Linked DNA regions of Homo sapiens: region 2 is linked to region 1. The links come from fine-mapping of genetic effects on gene expression. A gene starts in region 1. The other region holds a variant in brackets. All regions are shown on one strand. Distances are from middle to middle.

The links. PIP is the estimated chance that this variant, and not a neighbour inherited with it, causes the effect.
Region 2: its variant is fine-mapped to the expression of GSN in whole blood (TOPMed, PIP above 0.99). The same link has a PIP of 0.9 or more in monocytes.

What each region holds. Positions count from the first base shown.
Region 1 is chr9:121,261,733-121,272,454 of GRCh38, reverse strand. GSN (gelsolin) reads right to left here and starts at 4,293. Exons shown (of 18, transcript NM_198252.3): 1 at 4,236-4,293. RefSeq lists a silencer at 4,106-4,405 and an enhancer at 10,649-10,722.
Region 2 is chr9:121,301,416-121,312,137 of GRCh38, reverse strand. GSN (gelsolin) reads right to left here. Exons shown (of 18, transcript NM_198252.3): 3 at 9,971-10,175; 4 at 9,073-9,227; 5 at 1,293-1,454. The coding sequence starts at 10,166. Among named protein-coding and RNA genes, the nearest start is that of GSN-AS1, 21 kb to the right of the region's middle. The variant T/C (reference allele first, on the strand shown) is at 4,895.

The sequences.
Region 1 (10,722 bases):
CAGAGCTGGGAAGGCTGACATTATGCTGTCCACCCTACAGTGCAGAATGGACACTGGGGCCCAGAGAAAGGCATGCATTAGCCCAAGTCACCCAGTACTTTGTCACTGGCAAAGCCAGGACCCAAGCCCAGGCCTTCAGCTGCCTACCCTTGCCCACAACACCCACTGCTTTTCTCTGCCCTATTCTTAAATTGCTGATGTGGTCCCAGGCAGGGCAGACGAGAGCAGGCATATGGCAGGGGAGGGACAGAGGGAAGGGGAAGCTGGCCAGCAGCAGGAACTGAGCCTGCCTGTGGTCTCCAACTTCACAAACCACATCAGGCTGAAATATGACACACGCTCACTCCGTTGAAAGCGAGGAGATATTTTTACTTAACATCCCCCGGCTGCCTAAACACTGGTCTCTTTTTTTCCCTTCCTCCCCAAAATGCATAACCCCTGGGACGTGCTTTTCTCTGCTTCTGCTGGCATTTTCTCAGGGAATAACCAAGGAGCAGGAGAGTGTCCAGTTTTCCTGGCTTCGCCAGATAGATTTCCAGAGCATAAGCTTGATTGATGAAAAGGGGGGACCAGTCCTGGCTGGGCTCTCACCTCACCACATGACCTTGCTGGGCAAGTCCTGTGTCCTTTTGGAGCCTGGATTCCCTGAAATGGAGGGGAGATTGACCTGCACTGAGGGTCCTGCGGATGGCACAGGAAAGCATGAGTTTACAAACAGCCCCGGGAGGCCCCTCCAGGCCTCTCTGCTGCAGGGCTGAGCTCTCCAAGCTCTGCACACCGACACCCACCCCTCATAAAAGCATAACAAACTCCCTTACCAGTTCTCCTAATACCAGGACTAGAAAGAATTTTCAAGAGAATGTTTAGTGCTGTCATTAATAGCTATGGCTCTGTCGTCAGACCTCTGGAATCCTTGCACCATCACCCAATAGCCACACAACCCGGGGCATGTTATTCAGCCTCGGACTCAGTTTCCTCATCTGTAAAAGAAGATACTAGTATCTACCTCAGAGGAATGGTTGCAAGGAATCAATAAAGTAATTAATGTTCCAGTGCTTGGTATATTAAAAGATAGCTTTTTTTGTCTTTTCTTTTTTTGTTTTGAGACAGTATTGTTCTGTCATCCAGGCTGGAGTGCAGTGGCGTGATTTCAGCTTACTGTAACCTCCGTCTCCAGGGTTTAAGCAATTCTCATACCTCAGCCTCCCAAGTAGCTAGGATTACAGGAGCATCCCAGCACGTATTTTCAGTAGAGACAGGGTTTCACCATGTTGACCAGGCTGGTCTCAAACTCCTGGCTTAAGCCATCAACCCAACTCGGCCTCCCAAAATGCTGGAACTGCAGGTGTGAGCCACCATGCCCAGTTAAAAGATAGCTTTTTATTATTATCATGCAAACCAACATCTCTCCATTTTACACATGAGGAACCAGAGGCTCAGAGAGATAGGATTTGCCCAAGGTCACCCAAAGAACCAAGACTGGGGGTCCATTTCCAAGTCAGTGCTTCTAACTTCTCTCACACCTGTGGTCTCTGATAAGCAAATATACACACCCAGAGGCCGCAGACACAGGATGTAAAAGTTTTCTTAAAGAAAACCAGAGCTCAGTGTCTCAGCAACGTACCATAGACCAAGCAGAAATCATCTCTATGACCCACATCACAAATGACCCAAACTATTCACATGGAGTAGGGGAAAGTGACCCACTGTCACTGGATGGCTAAAAGTGAAGGCATCCAATCAACGTGTTTGGCAGGAGTGCACACACCATTGTTAACAGTGGCGACCTCTGGGGAAAGAGGCGGGCTTGGAGGGATTCTTTAACAATTTTTGTTTGTTTTAAAACTCATGAAAAAGAAAAAAAAGTTACAATGCTGAATACCTTAGCAACCTTCTCCAGTAGGTCTAGCCTGTTGTCTGCTTTTAGATGAAATTTATAGCAGGTTCTGAGACCTTCAGCTGGGCTTCCAGAATCTGCTGCTCTGACCCATCCCAGTGGCCACTGCTCTAGTTCAGACCTGCAATCTACTTCACTTGAATCATGCAACAGCCTCCTCAGGGCCTTCCTGCCTCCAGATCAGCCTCGTTCAATGCATCCCCTACATCAGCCATTCAGAATAACGAGTTTTTAAAAATCACTGCTCTGTCAAAACCCTTTCTCAGCTCTTCATTGCCTTCAGGATGAGGTCCAAACCCTTAGCTTATAATCTAGTTCCATTTTCATTTAGATTCTCAACCTCCCACCACCCCGCCCTTCTCCCATCCTCCACTCTAGCCACATGGATGGCTCAGAAAATCTCAGTGCCTTTGCACTAGTGGTTCCTGCTTCCCAGAATGTCTTTTCCCCCAACTCCTGTTTCTCCTGGTAAATGATTATTCATTCTGAGGTCTGGCTCACCTAGACAAAATTAGTCACTCCTCTTGCAGGCTGAAGTCACTCTTAATATGGCACAAAAGTGTCAAACAGTATAGATGGCAAGCATCTTGAGGACAGAGAGCTCTGTCCTCTTCCAAGGCTCTTTGGCCCCTCGCAGGGCAAGGCACAGAACACAGGCCCAGAGAAGTGCTGAAAGGAGGGAGGCGGGGAGGAAGGAAATGCCATGCGGGGCAAACCCTGCAGCCACCCCTCCTGGGAGCAGCCTGTTTCCAGGCTCATGTTAGTCCCTAATAAAAGGACTGTGGAAAATTCTGGAGTAAACTTTCCTCCCCTGATTCACACAGAAACCTTCTTTGCTGCTGTGTAACTCACCGAGTGCCAACCCAAGCTCCCCTGGCTGTTTACAATTTCCCTGGCATTTATAAATAGCATGGCCCCAGAAAGAAAAATGGAGTTTCAAAGGAGCTGAAAGCCGACCGTTCCCACCCCCATCCTTCCTCCTCTGTTTCCAAGCCTCTCCCCCTTAACAGCCCCAAGAAACACCAACCAGCACCCCCAAGTGTGTATGTACAGGGAATGCTTGTCCCTTTAGTAAACGGAACACCCAAGAAGGAGGCTAGAGTCCCTCCCAGCAAGGAGTCCGCAAACGGCAGACCGGAATTGGGTCTCAGCCCTACCCTGCCTCACTGTGTGACAATTAGCCCATCATAAACTCTCTGGGTCCTTGACTTTTCTCAACTGTGAAATGGAGGAAATGGAGATGGGGTAAGATTCTAGCAAGCTATGGTCGCTGTAAACGGCAGAGCGGTGAGAGGTCCTGGTGCCCTGGTCAGAAATGTGGTCCTGGGAGAACAGGACACACAGGATTAAGTGTTTGAAAAGTCCCCAGATGCCAAACAAAAGCGAAAGGCACCTCCCCAGAGGCCCCGCCTTCCACAAAGTCCAATTACCCTCAGGACAGCCCAGAATGAGTTCTGGGTGTTTTAAAGCTCCCTTCCATGCTCTGAGGAGGGTGTGAAGACAGGATAAAGCGACAGATGTCTGGGCAGACAAGGAGCTAGGAAGAAAGCCAATGTCTCCTGCTCACCCACACCCCCAGCCCCCAGCCTTCCAAGGACTGGGGCTTCCCCCTGGGCACTGCCCAGACCAGCCAGCCTGCACTGGACCAGAGGGAAGTTGCTGTTATTTAGGTTCTGGGGGGCTGGACCCCAGAAGACATGGGGGCTCAGGGAGAAGGGGTTCCAATCACTGTCTTCAACTCCAGAAGAAGCTTCCGTGTGAGTCAGGGAAGGGAACACTGCAGGGCCGGGGAGAAGCCAGCACCTACAGGTAGCAGGCGCCTGAAGATTTCAGACAGTGTAAGGAAGAACTTTCTAACAGTCCCCAGAAAGAGGAAGCAGCTGGAGAGGAGAGCAGGCACAGGTATCGTCCAGGAGGCAAGGGTCCTCTGAGTGGACTCCCCAGCAGAGTCACCGCCCAGACCGTAGCTGGTGGTCCCCTGCATGCCCGGGTCAGACAACCCAAGTGCAGGGGTGACCCCGGGCCAGTTCCCCCATCCCGGGGGCGGGGTCGAGGTTATTAGCTCAGGTGCTAGCAGCACAGTGGAATCACGGGGTGGAGGCCTGGCCCCTCTCCTCTCCTGCTCCGGCGTCTCCCCATCCCCCAACTCCCATCCACACTCTTTGGTCCCTTGGAAGACGGGAAAAGTGAGCGAGGAAGCCCTTTTCCAGCGATGCCCCCGCGGCCGGGCCGAGCTCCAGGCGCGGGCGAGATAGGACCGGGAAGGAAGGGAGAGGAAGGACTCAAATCAGCCCGGGACCCCCAGATGCCCGGGGCCGGGGCCGCGCGCCTCCCCTACCTGCTGCTGCGGCACTGGAGACAGCGGCTGCTGGGTCCAGCTGCGCTCAGCTGGTTCCGGGCGGCGGGGCGGGGGCGTTGTGGTGCGCGCGGCCGGGGTGGGCAGGGCGCGGGCGGGAGCCGCCCTCGGGGCGGGGCGGCCGGGCAGGCGGGTGGGGGAGGAGCGCCAGGCCCTCCCGTCGGCTGCTGGGCGGGTGGCTCCAAGCTCGCCTTCGTCCAGGGGGACCCCTCGCTTCACCTCGCAGGAAGGCACCAAACCAAGCCCTCTGCTTTCCCCTGGAGGAAACTGAGGCCCGGAGCACGGAGGGGAGATCTGAAGAGGCCTAGGGTCGGGGAGGAGACCCAGGGCAGCTCCTGAGCTGGGCTGGGGCCAAAGAGCTCAGATGGGACGGGCAAGCGAGCAATGCTCAACTAGCACCAGCGGAGGCAGATTTCAGCCCTGGAGAGAACGGACTTCAGGAGGCAAAGCCCTCGAAGAGTGACATAGGCTGCATGCAAAGCAGGGGAGATTCCCTCCCACGGAAGGGAATAAGGAGGAAGAGCGATTCCCAGCTCATTCCGAATGAAGTAACGAAAATGCCAAGTGCATCCCTGGTCCTTAAAGTGGACCATTAAGCAGGCGCCTCGGAGTCAGAAGGCCTGGTTTGGAACCCCAGACATCGACTAGTCCTGTAACTTTGGGCAAGCGAGCTCACATGTCTAAGTCTCCGTTTCCTCGTTTGTCAAATGGGCATCCTGAATTGCCGCTTCATGGGGCGGTTGAGAAGACTCAGTGAGAAAAAGACTCTCAGCACAATGACAGGGACCGTGGCTTCTGCATAAACGGAAGGGATGTTCTTATTAGTGTCATGGCAGATACTGTTTTAGGAGATTGAGGAAATCCACATTGGGTAGAAAGATGAGTGCAAGGTCAATTTTAAGCAAATGTAATACTTTGTTGATTTCAACAACATCTCATATGCATTTGAGACGATAGCCGTTTATAATGCAGCAAGGCATAAGACGGCCTCCCAGCAGTCCTGGTGCACACATGAGTTCCCAGGACTTTTGGAGTTGCCGCGTGACTCCGGTTTGGAAGGATTCACACACTCCACAGGAGACTGCACCACATGACAGAGATGTCCATTCCCAGCCTGGGTGCTGGCAGCAGCCCCATGTTCAGCCAGGGTAAAGCTCCCTCTTAACACAAGGTAAAATGTACTAGAGTCAGTAATTGCCGGGTGCTGGGGATCAGAGCAGAAAAGGCTGTTGTTTAAGTAGCACAGAAGCCAAGAGCACAGTGCTCACTCCCTGGTTTTTCCATTGAATAGCAGCCAGGGAAGCCACAGGACCCAGGGAATCTCACCCTGGCTCTTCCTCCTGCCATTCTCTCTTTGTTCAACACCAGTAAATACAAGAACCATTTCTTGAATGCCTCATGCCATGCTCTGGGCTTCCCACGTATTACCGACTTTAATTCTCACCTCCCTACCTGGCCTCCTAAGGGAGGCATTACCATGTGTATTTTTCAGATGAGCAGGCCAAGCCCACAGAAAGGGTTAAGTACTCTCTGGAGGTCACACTACTGATACTGTGCAGTCTACTCTTCTATGCCTGAGTCCTTGGCCCTCGCTTCTTTGCTCAATGTCTTATGTCACACTCTGCCACCTTTCCTGGCTTGGGAAATTCTGCCCAGTTCCACTTTCTCTGAGAATACAAGCAAGGTATCCACCCCGCAGGGAGGCTCACACCATCTCTGCTACTCTCTGCTTTCTCCAGAGGCTGCCTGGGGCCCAATGCAAGGCTGCTGGGGAGAAAAGCAAAAACACAGGCTTATTTGGCTCTGGAATCTTTGATTACAAGCCCCGGCATACACATGCCTTGGAATTATCTAACATATCATTTCCAGCCCCAGCAACTGCTCTCAGACAAAGGGAGGTGGAACTCTGAATCTGTGTCCCCATAGAACTGGAGAATACCACATCACGATGGAGGAAACATTGGAGAATGTCTGCTCCAACTCCTCCCTTTAGAGATGGAGAAACTGAGGCCAGGAGAGCAAAAGGGTTCACATTCTAAGCTAGATCTAAGGTTCCATATTCTAAGCTGGGTCAGATGCCTACCCATAACCCTGTAATTGCTCCATTTGGTGGCTGGAGAGGAACATGGGAACAGGGTATCACCAGGAATCATTAGAAATGATAATGAAGATAATGATGATGATGATTGATTGATGATGATTGTGATGATGATAACCAATACTTACATGGGAGTGCTCCTCTAGGAACACTTCTAGAAATCTCCTGGTGCTTTGCTTTATGACTCAACATGTGTATTTTATAGCTGGCAGGATATATCAAGTCTGCCTTTCATGGATGCCTAGAAGTCTTCTTGGTATCCTGTCTTCATTCCTTTCTAGATACCTCTTTGTACTTCTCCCCCCATTGGATCTAGGTAAGGTAAGGCCTGTTTGTCCTGGATCCTCACCTCAGAGTGAATGTCTTGCTGATAAGGATCTCCTCTGATGGAAGAACTTTGATATCTTCTTTTGCCAGAAGACCACCTCCTTCCCAGAGTGAGGCTGGGGAGAAATGAAGGCCACACACAGGCCAGGCATTAGACAATCTGGGGGTACCTGCTCTCTCCTCTGAGAACGCCTCTTCCCACCCAAGGGGATGGCCCTCACTTGCACCCAGGTTTGTACTGTAACCTTCCCCCACAACACAGTTGACAGCATGAGGAGTGGACGGCAGAAAAAAGCTGGACTATTAGAATTTGGAGCTGGAAGTTGAGACATGACAATCATGGTTAATTAACTGGGTCTGTGAGGACCAATGATCTCTGAAGGCCAAGGCTGCCATTTTGAGGTGGCCATCTTCCATCGTATTCACAGAGAAAGCCAATGAGGCTCGTTAAATGACTAGAAGGGTGTCGCAAAACTCACAGAGGAGATGCCTGGGCTGGGCAGCCCAGGAGGCTTCAGGGTTCAGGGGCTCTTCTGATTACAGACCTCTCCTGGAGCTGGCTTCAGAAAGAGAAGTTATCAGCACAAGTATTTGTTGAGCATCGAATGCCTTGTAGTTTGTCCCTAGAAGCAGAGGATGAGACAGGGATTTCATACAAGGGATTACTTGAGAGAGCACTCTCAGGAGATCCTGAAATATCCCATGGAACACTAGGGCAGGGGTGCAGCTGGGCCTCAGGATCAGACCACAAGCAGGACCTGAGTACTAAAGGGAACCCAGAAAGTACTCTCTCCCCCATCTTTCATCTCTGCCTGTCTGCTCACATCACACAAGCATTTCTGCTTTCCAGAAAATGGCTTTTACCAGCAGCAAGCTGGAATCTTTGTTTGTAGTCCACATTCTAAGTTGGATCAGATGCCTACCCTTTATCTAATTAACTCTGGCCCGAGTGACAGGGTCCTACTGCACAAACCTGGCTGCTCCCACTGTAACCTGTGGGTGGAGGGGGTGCACTTCCCAGAGAAAAGGGGAGGGGAAGCCAAGCAGAGACAACGGCTTGGATTCAGTCAGCCTTGAAAGGATGGAAAGAATAAGAGTGGAGGTGAGGAAGGGAACAGCATCTTCTGCTAAGAGCACAGAATAAGCAAAGGTGTGGAGGTCAGAGAAAGACAGAGCTGGAAGAAGGAAAGGAGACTGTTATTTTCTCCAGCCTCGGTCCCCTTTAGTGTTGTGCTAGTGTTGTGTTCTTAAGAACTGATTTAGTGTGTTTAGTGTTGTTTTCTTACGAACTGATTGCTCAATTTCCATGAATTTTTGTGGATTTTTTTGAGACAAGATTTCACTGTCACCCAGGCTGGAGTCAGTGGCACAAACATGGCTTCCTGCAGCCTTGACCTCTGGGCTCAAGCAATCCTCCTGCCTTAGCCTCCCAAGTAGGTGGGACCACAGGTACATCCCACCAGGCCTGGCTAATTTTTATGTTATTTGTAGAGATGAAGTCTCTCTATGTTACCAGACTGGTCTTAAACTTTTGGGCTCAAGAGATCCTCCCACCTCAGCCTTTGAAAGTGCTGGGATTATAGGAGTAAGCCATCACACCTGGCCAAATTTCCATGCATTCTTACACCCAGCTGTATTAAGGCTGTATTAAGCACAGCCTTCAATAACAATCTATATAAACTTATAATTAAGTAAATTATAAATTGATATGGTCTGGCTCTGTGTTCCCACCCAAATCTCATCTCGAATTGTAATCCCCATAATCCCCATGTGTCAAGGAAGGAATCTGGTGGAAGGGAGGTGATTGGATCATGGGGGCAGTTTCCCCCATGCCGTTCTCATGATGGTGAGTTCTCATGAGACCTGATTTTTTTTTTTTTTTTTTTTTGAGATGGAGTTTCCCTCTCGTTCCTAGGCTGGAGTGCAATGGCGCAATCTCGGTTCACCGCAACCTCCACCTCCCAGGTTCAAGCGATTCTGCTGCTTCAGCCTCCTAGTAGCTGGGATTACAGGCACCCGCAACAACGCCCGGCTAATTTTGTATTTTTAGTAGAGACGGGGTTTCTCCATATTGGTCAGGCTGGTCTCGAACTCCCGACCTCAGGTGATCCACCTGCCTCAGCCTACCAAAGTGCTGGGATTACAGGCGTGAGCCATCTTGCCCAGCCGAGACCTGATTCTTTTAGGAGTGTTTGGCAGTTCCTCCTTCACACACTCTCTCTCCTGCCACCACGTAAGACTTGCCTGCTTCCCTTTCCACCATGATTGTAAGTTTCCTGAGGCCTCCCAGCCATGTAGGACTGTGAGTCAATTAAACCTCTTTCCTTCATAAATTACCCAGTCTCAGGTATGTCTTTATAGCAGTGTGAAAATGACTAATACATAAATAGAGGTAATAAATTCTCAAAACTTAGTACTTCATAATTATTTTACTATATTTCACTATTATCTGTGCTCTTATTTTCACCATTTATCTATATGGTAGAAATACTGTATAATTGTGTGCAATTGCATTTCTACTCGCAACTCCACACTCAGTGACATCATGCTGGTAGCCCAGTCCCCACGGTGGGAATATTTACACCATGGAGATCAGGAAAGGCTATAAATCAGGGTTTTCCTTCTCCCTCCACCAAGAGCCTTTCGTTTAACATTTACCAGCACACCACTGCTCAAAACCTGGGCTTCCCCCATTCGACTCACTGCATTCAGATTGTCCATTTATGTGTATATCTCATTAGACTGGCAGCTCAGTGGAAGGAGAAAATGTGTTTGCTTGGTTTTCCGACATCATCCCAGTGTCAAATAGTGCTTGGCACAGAGCAGATGTTTAGCACGTTTTTATTGGATTAATGAATTGGTGAATGAGGAAAGTGACCACAGATGGGTTTGGTCAGATAGAGTGATTGGGGACACTACGGGAGGACTCAAGAGAGGGTTGCTCTTTGAATTTCAAGAGCCATTATTCTAGACATGTTCTGAATGCCCCAGGCAGGAATGTGTTTGTCCCACTATTTTAATGAGAACTTAAAACTTTGTGTTCCATATAAGCACTGCCAGCTCAGCCCTAAGACTTGGATTCCTAGCAGCTATGATTCTGTAATTATGCCCAATAAATGCCAGTAAGATGCTAAACAGCATAAGCATCAGTGACTTCACTGTTACACAGCAGAGGATTTCCCAGCTAGCCAGCCTCCCAGGTTAGATTTTTCAGGAAAGAGCAAAACTGCCTGGAGGTTCTTCCTCCACAGCTTAACAGAGCTGGCCCTATGACAGTGGCATGCATAATAATAACTAAAAGCATAATTATAACTGCCACATTCTGAGTGCTTACTCTATGCCGGTCACTTTATTATTTCAATTAAGCTTGACAATTGCCCTCTAAGTTAGGTATTCTTGTCTCCAATTTTACAAATAAAATAAATAGGCTCAAAAAGGATAAGTAATCTGCTTAAGCTTCCACAGCTAGGTGAGTGGTAGAGCTGGGATTTGAATCCAGGTCTGTCTCCAAAGCCCAGATTCTTTCTATAGCCAGAGTGAAAGAAGGCCAAGGGAAAGGTAAGGTCTTTTCCATGCTCCCTTCTCAGGATCAAGAATTATTTAATTTCATCTCGACAACGTTAGGATCTGATGTTAGGCCCCTCTCTGTACACTTCATATAATGGTTGACTACAGCTCGTTGTTTCTTTGTATGGAAGGTATTTGGAGCTGTTCAAGAAATGTGGAACTACTCTCAGAAAGATTGTGAACTGCTGTGCTTTAGAAACAAAAAGTAATTCATAAAATCCCTTAAACACACCCACACCAAAAAAATCTTGGAGATGGTGCTATTTTTGTACTCAGAGGCCTTGAAGGACAGGACACCCTGAGTTACTCAACCTCTCTGAGCCTTGGTTTCTTCCTCTGATGATAATATCCACTCAAAGAATTATGGGGAAATTAAATGAATTCTCTGTGTCAAGGCCTCAGGCATATAAAGGGCTCTGTCAACAGTGGCTGGTGTCATCATGGGAACCCCCTAGGTACGGGCGTGGAGGTGTTTAA
Region 2 (10,722 bases), 40 kb before region 1:
GTCTGAGGACAGGAATTTTTTCACAGGTACAACTACATCTAGAATGTGTGCAAAAATGTTTGCCTGCTGAAGGGAATATAAATTGGCACAACCATTTTGGAAAACCATTTGGCCATAGCCACTAAAGCCGAATATACCTATTTCCTTATGACCCAGCAATCCTCCTTCTAGGAAAATACCTGACAGAAGTACGTTCGTATGTCCACCAAAAGACTTGTGCAAGAATGTTCAGAGTAGCACTGTCTGTAATAGCCCCAAACCAGAAGCCACCTCAAGTGCCCATCAACAACATAAAGGATACATAAATCATGGTACACCCACACAACTGAATCTTCCACAGCAAGGAAAATGAACAACCTACAACTAAATGCAACAATACGGATGCATCTCAGAAATGTAATGTTGAGCAAAAGGTCAGAGATAAAAGAACAAGGTTCCGTGTCTATAAAGTTCAGAAACAGGCAAAACTCATCTATGCTGTTGAGAAAGTTCAGGATGATGGTTGCCCTTGGGGTGAGGGCACCGAAAGGGGCAAAAGGGGCCTTCTAGGGGCTGGTGAGGTTCTGCTTCATGATCCAGTGTTACGTGAGTGTGTTCGCTCTGTGTAATCCATCAAGCTGTACACTCAGGATTCACACACTCCTCTGTGTGCCCATGACGCTTTAATAAAAAGCTTACACTAAATCAGTGTGTGCTCATGTTTGCACGGACATTATATCACAGGTGTATAAGCATATGAGCTTTGGGGTAGAAGGGCCGTGTCCATTTGCAGGTCTGCGCTCCAGGGATTTGTGAGACAAGTGTGTACAAAGCGTCACACATCTATAAGGTGGGCCTGGGTAAGGGCATCCCACACACATTGCCATAGATCATGGGCATGTGCAACTACATGTATGACATACACATGTGGGACCTTAAACAACATACCCGAGTATACATGTGTGGGCATTCATGATGGTGCACATGTGCACACCTGGTGGGCAAAAGCCCAGAGTGTTTGCCCATGACTGTTATATATTTATAAGCATGTGAAAAAGGACACAAGACGTACATATGAACAGAAGGTGCCAGGAAGTCTATATGTCAATCAAAGTCCAAGTACGCACTATACCCGTGGTGTGAGTCTACATTTGTGGGAGTCTTTGCATACAGACATATCTGTACGTGAACAATGCTGGTCCCTGTGGTTTGCCCACCTGCATCTATGCATTTGTTCACGTGGATGTACCCAAGTCCCTGATCAGACCAGGAGCACCTCAGTGGCTCCTGGGAAAGAGGAAAGCAGGACTCACGTTGCCCAGGTCCAGGATGAAGCAGTCGCCATTGTTGAAGCTCTCCCAGGACACAGGTACCTCGGTGGCACGGACCACACGCCGCCCTTTGACCTGGAAGAGTCTCTGCACCACCACCTCGTTGGGTACCACGTGCTTGAATCCTGATGCCACACCTCCTTTCTGTGGGGCCAAAGAGACAGCATTAGCCCAGGGGAGAAGGCCCAGGGAAGCAGATATGGAAGAAGGGGACAGAATTGAGGTAAAGGAAATTCTGGCTTGTGGACCAGGGGCTTTCCAGCAACACAGTGATTCTCAGTTAACTCAGGACTTTCATACCCATTATCTTGTTTGAGACTGTTTCAGAGTAGGAAACTGAGGTTTAGGAAAGGAATAAAATTTGCCCAAGGCCACACAGCTAAGAAGTGAGAGATTCCCTGCCCACTGCATCTTTCTGCCACCCCTTTGAATCCCATACTCCACTAACAAGGACCCCTGTAGCCACTTTCTAAATCAAAAAAACTGCAACAATTCCTTCCTCAAAACCGGCGTTTCCCAAAGGCACACTAGTCCCCTAAGACATTCTGCAAGGAAAGAGTTCCACGGTCAAATAAGCATAGGGAATGCTTCTCACTCACCCTCCCTGACTGTTATACAACGCGCATGTGCATAATAAAGGCTCTGTCAAATCCTATGGTGAATACACCTGCTTGCCTTTTGTTTTATACAGTATTTCCCTATCTTATTGAACCAAGAACTGCTTTTCTTTCTTTCCCTCTTTCTTTTTTCTTTCCTTTCTTTTTTTCTTTCTTTCATTCTCTTTCCCTCTCTCTTTCCTTTCCTTCCTTCCTTTCTCTCTTTCTCTCTCTCTCTCCTTCCTTCCGCTCTCTCTCTCTCTTCCTTCCTTTCAACAGGGTTTCACTCTGTCCCAGGCTGCAGTGCATTGGTACAATCACAGCTCACTGTAACCTCAAACTCCTGGACTTGAATGATCCTCCCATCTCAGCCTCTCGAGTGGCTAAGACTACAGTTATGAGCCACAGTGCCCAGCTTACTTATTTTATTTTATTTTATTGTAGACATGGGGTCTCACTATGCTGTTTAAGCTGGTCTTGAACTCCTGGCCTCAAGAGATCCTTGGGTGCTGGGATTACAGGAGTGAGTCACTGAACCCAGCCCAAGAACCACTTTTCTTCACCATATCCTGCCTCCAGCTTGAGTATTTTGCAAAAGCCACTTTGAGAGGTACTAATCCAAATCTTTCTCATCCTTCAAGGCTCTCTGGGAAGTCTTTCTGGATTGTTCCAGCCCATGCCACCCTTCTGCTTTCCCCTACGGTACCGCAGCAACTCCCACCCAGCAGTCCCTTCAGAGCAGCTATGGGTAAGGGACAGGTGCCCCGCCACAACAATGCTGGATGGCTTTGGGTAAGTCACTTGCCCTTTCCGAGCCTCAGGCCTCTCCTTTCTGAAGTGGAGACACAAGCTCCTGCTCCCCAGCCCTCTGTAATCATTACTGCATCCCAGAGCAAGGCGTTCAGGAGAGCTTCCCTGCTGCAGTCACAACTGCCCTCACTCAGAAGCAAGCCAAGGAAAGTCAGCTGGGCTTTCCTGTGAGCAGTCCCCAGCTCCATGCCCCAGAGTTGTCAAATCAGAGTTGGAAAGGTCCTTCTACTTCACCCCACTTTACCCACGGTAAACTGAAGCCCAGAGAAGTGAAGTGACTTACTCAAGGGCACTCAGCAAGTGCGTGGCCAAGCCAAGGCTGGAAACCTTGTTTCCTCCTCCCAATCGGGTGCTCGTCTCCCTGCTCCGGAGACACATGGGGGTGGAAGCAGAGGGCTTCCACTCAGGCCAGCAATGCAGCCACCCCATCCAGGGCCCCTCAGCCCACTGTGCTAAGTCTAATTCTAGCCGCACAGACTCGAGGAGGGCAAGGGACAAACGGAGTCCGTGTATATTGGGCTCCTGCTCTGTCTTCCTGTGTCAGCAGTATACGTGTTTGTGAAATGATGATGCCCACTGTGCCGGGCATTCTTCACGCATCGCCTGCAAGGGAGGTGTCATTGCTGCATCGCACTGATGTGCAAAATGGGGCCCACAGGTGACGGGACTTGCCCAAGGTGGTGGAGCTAGAATTCAAACCCAGGCATGTCTGAATCTGTAAGATCCACATTCTTCTCTCAATATCAGGTTTTCTCGCTCTGTTGCCCAGGCTGGAGTGCAGTGGTGTAATCTCAATTCACTGCAGCCTCCACCTCCTGGGTTCCAGCGATTCTTGTGCTTTAGCCTCCCAAGTAGCTGTGATTACAGATGTGCACCACCATGCCCAGCTAATTTTTGTATTTTTTGTAGAGATGAAGTTTCACCATGTTGGCCAGGCTGGTCTCGAACTCCTGGCCTCATGTGATCCTCCCGCCTTGGCCTCCCAAAGTGCTGGAATTACAGGCATGAGCCACTGTGCCAGCCAATATCAGGTTTTCTTAGAGCAAAGATCACTCAGTCATCCAGGATGGGAGGCAGGAACAAGCCATTATTCAGAGCCCTCTTTCAAGTAATGGATGTTTTTGGGTTGCCAGTGGCTGGAGGACTCCCTGGTGTCCCTTCTTGGTCTCAGCTAAGGCCTTTCAAGAGTCCCTTGGGACTAGCAGGGCGGCCAGTGCTCACAGAGCTAACAACCTATCTTTCCACCCTGCTTCCAGGGCCCCTTCAAGGGAGCTGTGGGTTGGCCACACTATGACTGACCTCGGTGTGGAGCAAGGGGTAAGACTGTGACTTCTGCTCCTGAATTTGCTGCCCAAAACTGGGAAGCAAGACAGTAAATTTTTCCATCATCAGGAAGGAGTGAGTTGGGACTCTGGGGTGAGGGACTGACCAGCTGCAGTCACAACTGCAGTCACAACTGAGGGGGTCCGAAGGCTGGATGGCCGTGAGGCCTGGGATTGGAGAGCCAGGCAGAGTGCAAAGGACATAGGTCAGGGCAATGCAGGGGAAGCGCAGAAAGGCAGGGGAAGCGCAGAAAGACAGGAGGGTTCTGAGACCGATGTAACCAAGCCTGCCCAGAGCAAGTGAGGAAGAACCGCCAGGGAAGAAAATGCAACAACCTGCGCTCACCTGTGCTCAGCTGTGCTTACCTGAAACAAGCACAGTGGCTGCCACTTACCGAGCTTTGCCAAAGCTGGGGCACCTGCTTTAAGTGCATGCAATGAAGTCCTGACCACAAGCCCCTGATGCAGGAACTATTAATAATTTTCCCACTTCAAAGGCAAGGAAACTGAGATTCAAAGAGATTAAGCATTGTGTCCAGAGCCCAGTGCTGGGCGGCAGTGCTGGGTTCTATCCCCAAGATCCCCCTTCCAGGGACCCAGCTTCATTCAACTGTCAGCCTAGGAACTCCTGACCAGGGGACTTCATTCACCTGGACATAATGAGAGAGTGGATGTGCAAACCTTTTCCAAAAGGTGCTAGAAGGACTCACTGTTTCTATTGATTCCTCGGAGACAAGGAAATGGGGGGAAAGAAAAAATTTTTACCCCTCTAAATATTTTACTTGTTGAAGTATGCCTTTCATTTTTGTTATTAAAATCTTTACCCTATTTTTTAAAAAGGAAAAGGGTTGCTTCA[T/C]GTCATAAATCTCACTTCTTAAAAATTCTCTGTATTTATTTATAAAATAATTCTTTTTTTTTTGAGACAGAGTCTCGTTCCATCGCCCAGGCTGGAATGCAGTGGTACGATCTCGGCTCACTGCAACCTCTGCCTCCCAGATTCAAGTGATTCTCCTGCCTCAGCCTCCTGAGTCGCTGAGATTACGGGCACCCGCCACCACGCCCGGCTAATTTTTGTATTTTTAGTAGAGACAGGGTTTCACCATGTTGGCCAGGCAGGTCTTGAACTCCTGACCTCAAATGATCCACCCATCTCGGCCTCCCAAAGTGTTGGGATTACAAGTGTGAGCCACCGCACCCGGCCTTATAACATAACTCTTGATGTTGAATTATTGCAGCCATGAGCTGCCTGATTAATTAACTCCTCTAATTTTACTGGTCTAGGGAATTAGAATTGGAAAGATTAATTAACAAAAATAAATTAAAGCAAGCTCTTAGAAGACATTAGTGGATCTACAAGGGCAGGGGAAAGAAGTTTTTTGAAGTTTTTCCTGTTTTTGACTATCATCTTTAGCACTGATTGCTGCTTTCTGTGGTCTAATCATTAGGTGAGCAAGATTGGCATCAAATTATTTGAACAAAATTCTACAGGATAAATTGTTTTAAAAGCCATTTTCCAAATTAAAGTGATTACATATATATGTGTCTGTCTACCTATATACGTTCAGAGAGACAGAAAGAAATTAGCCACTATATATCTCCAAGGGGAGAATCATGTTGGGAGGGCTTTTATTTTCTGGAACCTATATTTCTGTAATGTTTGACATTTTACAATAAGCTTATATTGCTCTTGTAGTCAGAAGAAGGGGGAAAAGAAGCAATGAAGATTTACATGAAAACAAAAGTTAAACTGTTTCTAAAACAAAGAAAAATGAATTGATCAGGCTTGGGCCCCTCCACCCTCTAAACTCAGAGCTCCTTATCTAAGGAATAGGAGAGAGGGAGGACAGAAAGGTTCCAGTGATTCTATGGGTTCCCAATTGTGTTCCTCAGGTCCAAGGGCTCCTAGGTCTCTGCCTAGCCCAGATTCCATTTGAACAATGGGTTTCAAATAACCCAGCCCCACGGGGTCTCCAGGATTCAGTCCAAAAATGGGGGTCTGCGGAGTGGGAGGAGGAGGGGCGGGGAATCAAGGGATTCTGAACTCTCTTGCAGGGCAGTGATCTAAGGATTTGGGGGTCATAGAACAAGAGGGCCAAGCCCCATGTCAGCCCTTTCTAGTGGCTTGCTGTCCCCTCCCTGCCCCTTCTCACACTCCGAGGACAGAATTGGCTCAGAGGAAGAGGCTTTCACAGGAACAAGTCTTGCATAACAAGCCCTGCTCCTCCGGGATCTATAATTGATGAGGGCGCCGGGGCGAGAACCTTGGGCTGGACCTGCCAAGTGCGGGGGCAGACTGAGGACTTACAGAAGGTGGTAAACAAGACCAGCCCTGGGCCTCCCATTCACACCAGGAGCCAGCGCCTTTCAGGACAGAAGCCCCAAATCTGGGCCCAGCTGGAGCTTTCCTCGAGTGTGATCCAAGAACATCCTGGAAAATCATCGGGGGGCCGGGGAACCTGGCTATCCAAGTAGATCCCAGGCCATATCCGAGCGAGGATCAAAGATCAGGGAGCCTCCAAATGTCTACTCTGAACCAGGTCTGTGCTAGGCCCTTCACACCTGGGTTTGCACACTAGTCCAATCACTTACTAGCTGTGTGACCTTGGAAAAGTTGCTTAACATCTCTGTGCCTTAGTAGCCTCATTTATAAAATGGTGCTAACAGATACCCTACCTGTTAGGGTAAAATGAGTTAAATGAGTAAAGCACCCAGAAGAGTCCCTGACACACAGAAAGTAATAGATAAGTGTTCAATGACAAGCACCTTTTACTAGCTGTGTGAACTTAGGCAAGTTAGTTTGCTCCTCTGAGCCTCAGCTTCCTCGTCTATGAAATGGAGCATTACCATCCACCCTAAAGGCTACAGTGAGAATTAAATGAGATCTTGTAGTCAAGGCTTAACACACGGTAAGGGTTATTATCATCCTTGTTTATTCCTAAAAATCCGGGAGCCTATGACCTGCTCTGCAACATTCTCTGACCTGGAAAATCACCCTTTCTGTGTATATGAGAACTCTCATATTTGTAACCATGTTAGACTGTCAGGTTATGCCCTAAGAAACAGTGACTAGGACAAGATAGATTAGCAAACACCTACTCATCTATCTCATCCCTGAACCCCTCTCAGAGCTGAGCACTCCCTGGGATCCCACATCACCCCACCTGGAGGCAATGGATTAACTCTTCGTGAGCCTGCCAGTCTCCCCAACTCCTCAGAACACTCTCAAGGGCAGGGACCCACCTTCTTCACTTGGGCACCCCAGCACCCATCACAGGGCCTGGCAGAGTTAAGGGAACACAATCCTGGTTTGAATATAGTTATGTGACCTCTCTGAGCCTCCAGTCTCATCTGTAAAATGGAATGGGAATTACTTACCTCCCAGGACAGTTGTGAGGCTGAAACGAGATAACCTACATTCCCAGTACCATATCTGCCATAGTGTAGCAACAATGAGCTGGTGCTGCTGTTATTGAGGCTCAGTAAATATTTGCTGAATGAATGATGAATGGAGGATGATTGAGAACACCCGCCCAAAGATACAAGACTTGCCCAAAGTCTCACAGCAGTTACAGAAGGTAGCCTTCCAACCTGAATCCCAATCTCTGTGATTCCTGGGCAAGTGTTCGTTCCATTTCTTGCTCCAGAAGTTGCAAAAAGACCTGGTCCTTCTCCAGCTCAGGGGACTGGCTCCCAAACTTCTCACCTCTCCTTCTGCAAGGTATCAAGGCCCCAGAAAGGGCTGTGGGAAGAAGGCAGAGCTGGACACCTCAGCAGGAGGAGCTCAGTGCAAGGGCACAAGGGGCTCCAGGGAATCCAGCCCAGCCCTGCCCAGCCCTGGACTGTGAGTTCCCAGGACACACCCTGCCCATTGCTATCTGAGTCTCACTGGCACTTTCCCATCATTCAATCTCTTATGCCTCACCAGGGCAGACAAGGTCACCACTCCATTGACATAGATGATCCTGAGGTCCAGAGAGGAACAGTGACTTCTCTAAGGTCACACAGCACATCAGCAGCACAGACAGGCTTGGACCCTACCCTAGGACCCTGGTCATTAGAGGTATGTTGGTTTAGTGGAAAGAATGCTAAGAGTCAGAACATCTGGGTTCTAGTCCTGGGTCTGGCACCAATTCGCTGTGTGACTCTGGGCCAATTGCTTAAGACTTTCTGTGTCTCAGTTCCCCTTCTCCCCTGGTAAAATGAGATTTGGACTCTGACATTAAGGCCCACCTGGCTGTGAAAGCCTGTGATCCCCTTCTCTATCCTGACCAAGGAAAACCCCAGCTTTGTAAAACTACAGTGTTTCCATAGCCCTTCCAGATGGCCAAGCCCCACGCAAGGCATTTCCCAGCCACCCCCACACCAAATCCTCTCCCAGCCCTGTAGGGCAGGTACAACTGGCTCTCAGGTAACCAGAGAGGAAAGGGAGGCTCAAGGAGGTCAAGTGGCTTGCAGGAAGTCACCAGCATATTAGGGTGCAGCCTCTTGGAGCTCCCAGTTTGGCCTTGCTCTGCCCCACCTGGCTAGGAGCTTGGGAAAAGAGCTCTGTCTTGATCCAGACTCTGAAGAGTTCAAGTTCAAAGGGGATTCTAGTGAACAGAAAGAGGGATGTGACTAACAATGCCCTATTAAATACTTAACACGGGGCCCTCTGTTGGCAAGGCCTTAAGAATTAAGGGGTACCAGAACAGGACTAGGCCAAAGCCCCCCAGGGCCTGCAAGAAGAACTGGATTTTCACCTCTGGCCCACTCCTCACTGTTGGGGCTAGGAAGACAACACTATGAACTTATGGGGAATTTTCTTCTCCCCATTTTAAGATAAGGAACCAGAGGCTCAGAAAGGCAGTGTGATTTGTCCAAGCTCACATGGCTAGAAAGAGGCCAGGATTTAAACACAATGTTGGTTGACTCCAAAGCCTGACCTCTGATCGGTCTGCCCACTGCATCACAAGGCCAAAAGATAGATGGGCCTGAGTGAGCCCTGTTACTGGTGCATCTGTCCCTACCGCTCAAGCAAGGTGGGGCCCAACCCACCTTGTACTTCAGGCCAGACTTGAAGTAGCCTAGGAAGGTGGCCGACTCGAAGCCCTGGACCTCACGGTGCTGCACGGCCCGGCCGTTCAGGTAGTCATCCAGCTGCACGGTAAAGATGGCGGCCGCCCCGCTCTCATCCTGGCTGCACTCATTGCCTACGGGACATCAGAGCAATATGAGCCTGGCTTTCCAGAAGTATCCCAGACCCCTGAGGAAGAGGAGGTGGAGGAGGAACCCCAGCACTGCCCTGACCTAGCTGTAGAAGCTGAGAAAGCCCTTGCCTTCTGTGAGCCTCAGTTAATCCATCTGTATAACAGGACGATGGACCTCATTTTTCTCTAAGCGTCCTCCCAGCTCTGTCACATTCCCTTATGTTCATTCTCAGCCCTCCTGAGCGTAAACTCAGGACTGGGAGCATCAGATCAATTCACAGATTAGGAAACTGAGGCTCAGCAAGGGGGCAGAACTTATAGCATCCCACGGCAGAGGTGTGGCAGGGACTCCGGGCTCCTGACTCAAGGGCAAACTGGGGAGTGCCTGGAGCTGGGCCAGGGAAGTTGTGGAGAGGTCCAGGGTCTCCAATTCACCCACAGTTCTGAGTGTCACAGTAAGGTGTTTAACGCTCACAACATTCCTGTGAGGTAGTGCAGAGCTATCATCATGTCCACTCCACAGGGACACTAAGTGACTTGCCAAAGGACAGAACATGGGTTAGGGGCAGAGTGGGGGTGTGAACTTGGCCAGGCTGGCTCTAGCGTCTCAGGGCATGAACCACCAGTCAAGGGCCCAGCACATACTAGGTGCTCAATAATCAGTTCCCTCCCTGGGGACCATGCCCCAAAGGTCTGCACTGTTCAGAATGGGGGCTGGGGCAGGGGCTGGGCAGGGCCAGCCTCACCCAGCCAGTAGTGGAGGTCATACTGCAGATTTCCGTTCCTCAGCTGCACTGTCTTCAGGATGACGTAGGCGTCGCCCGTGAAGAAGTCTCCATAAAGGTTGGTGGGCACGGGCACCAGATCGAACTTCTCCACACGCCAGATCTGCAGGCCAGGCTCCTTCCCTGCCTTGAGGAACTCGGGGTGTTCCACCACCATGCTGTTGGGCTGGGATGAGACAGGGCAGAGCCTAAGCGGGGCAGGGTCCTGGCAGGGAGAGACCCCAGGCATGAGGGAGGGCGGTTTCTAGCACCAAGAGCATCTCACTTGAGCCTCCTGCTCTCCCCACGCCCCAGGGAAGTCTATCCCCTTCTGGGCACCCTGTCTCAACGAGTCAGCAAACAGGGCAAGAGTTTTATGCTTCAAAACCTGTGCCCTGGCCAGCATCTGTCCCTCCTACTCAGCCCCTCTTCAGCTTTTTCTGGTGATGGAGGGTACAGAGGGCTCTACCTCCCTGCTCCTTTCTTTTCTTTCTTTCTTTTTTTCTTTTTTTTTTTTTTTTTTTGAGACAGAGTCTCGCACTGTTGTCCAGTCTGGAGTGCAATGGTGCAATCTCGACTCACTGTAACCTCTGCCTCCTGGGTTCAAGCGATTCTCCTGCCTCAGCCTCCTGAGTAGCTGGGATTACAGGCATGCGATACTATGCCTGGCTAATTTTGTATTTTTAGTACAGACAGGGTTTCGCCATGTTGGTCAGGCTGGTCTGGAACTCCTG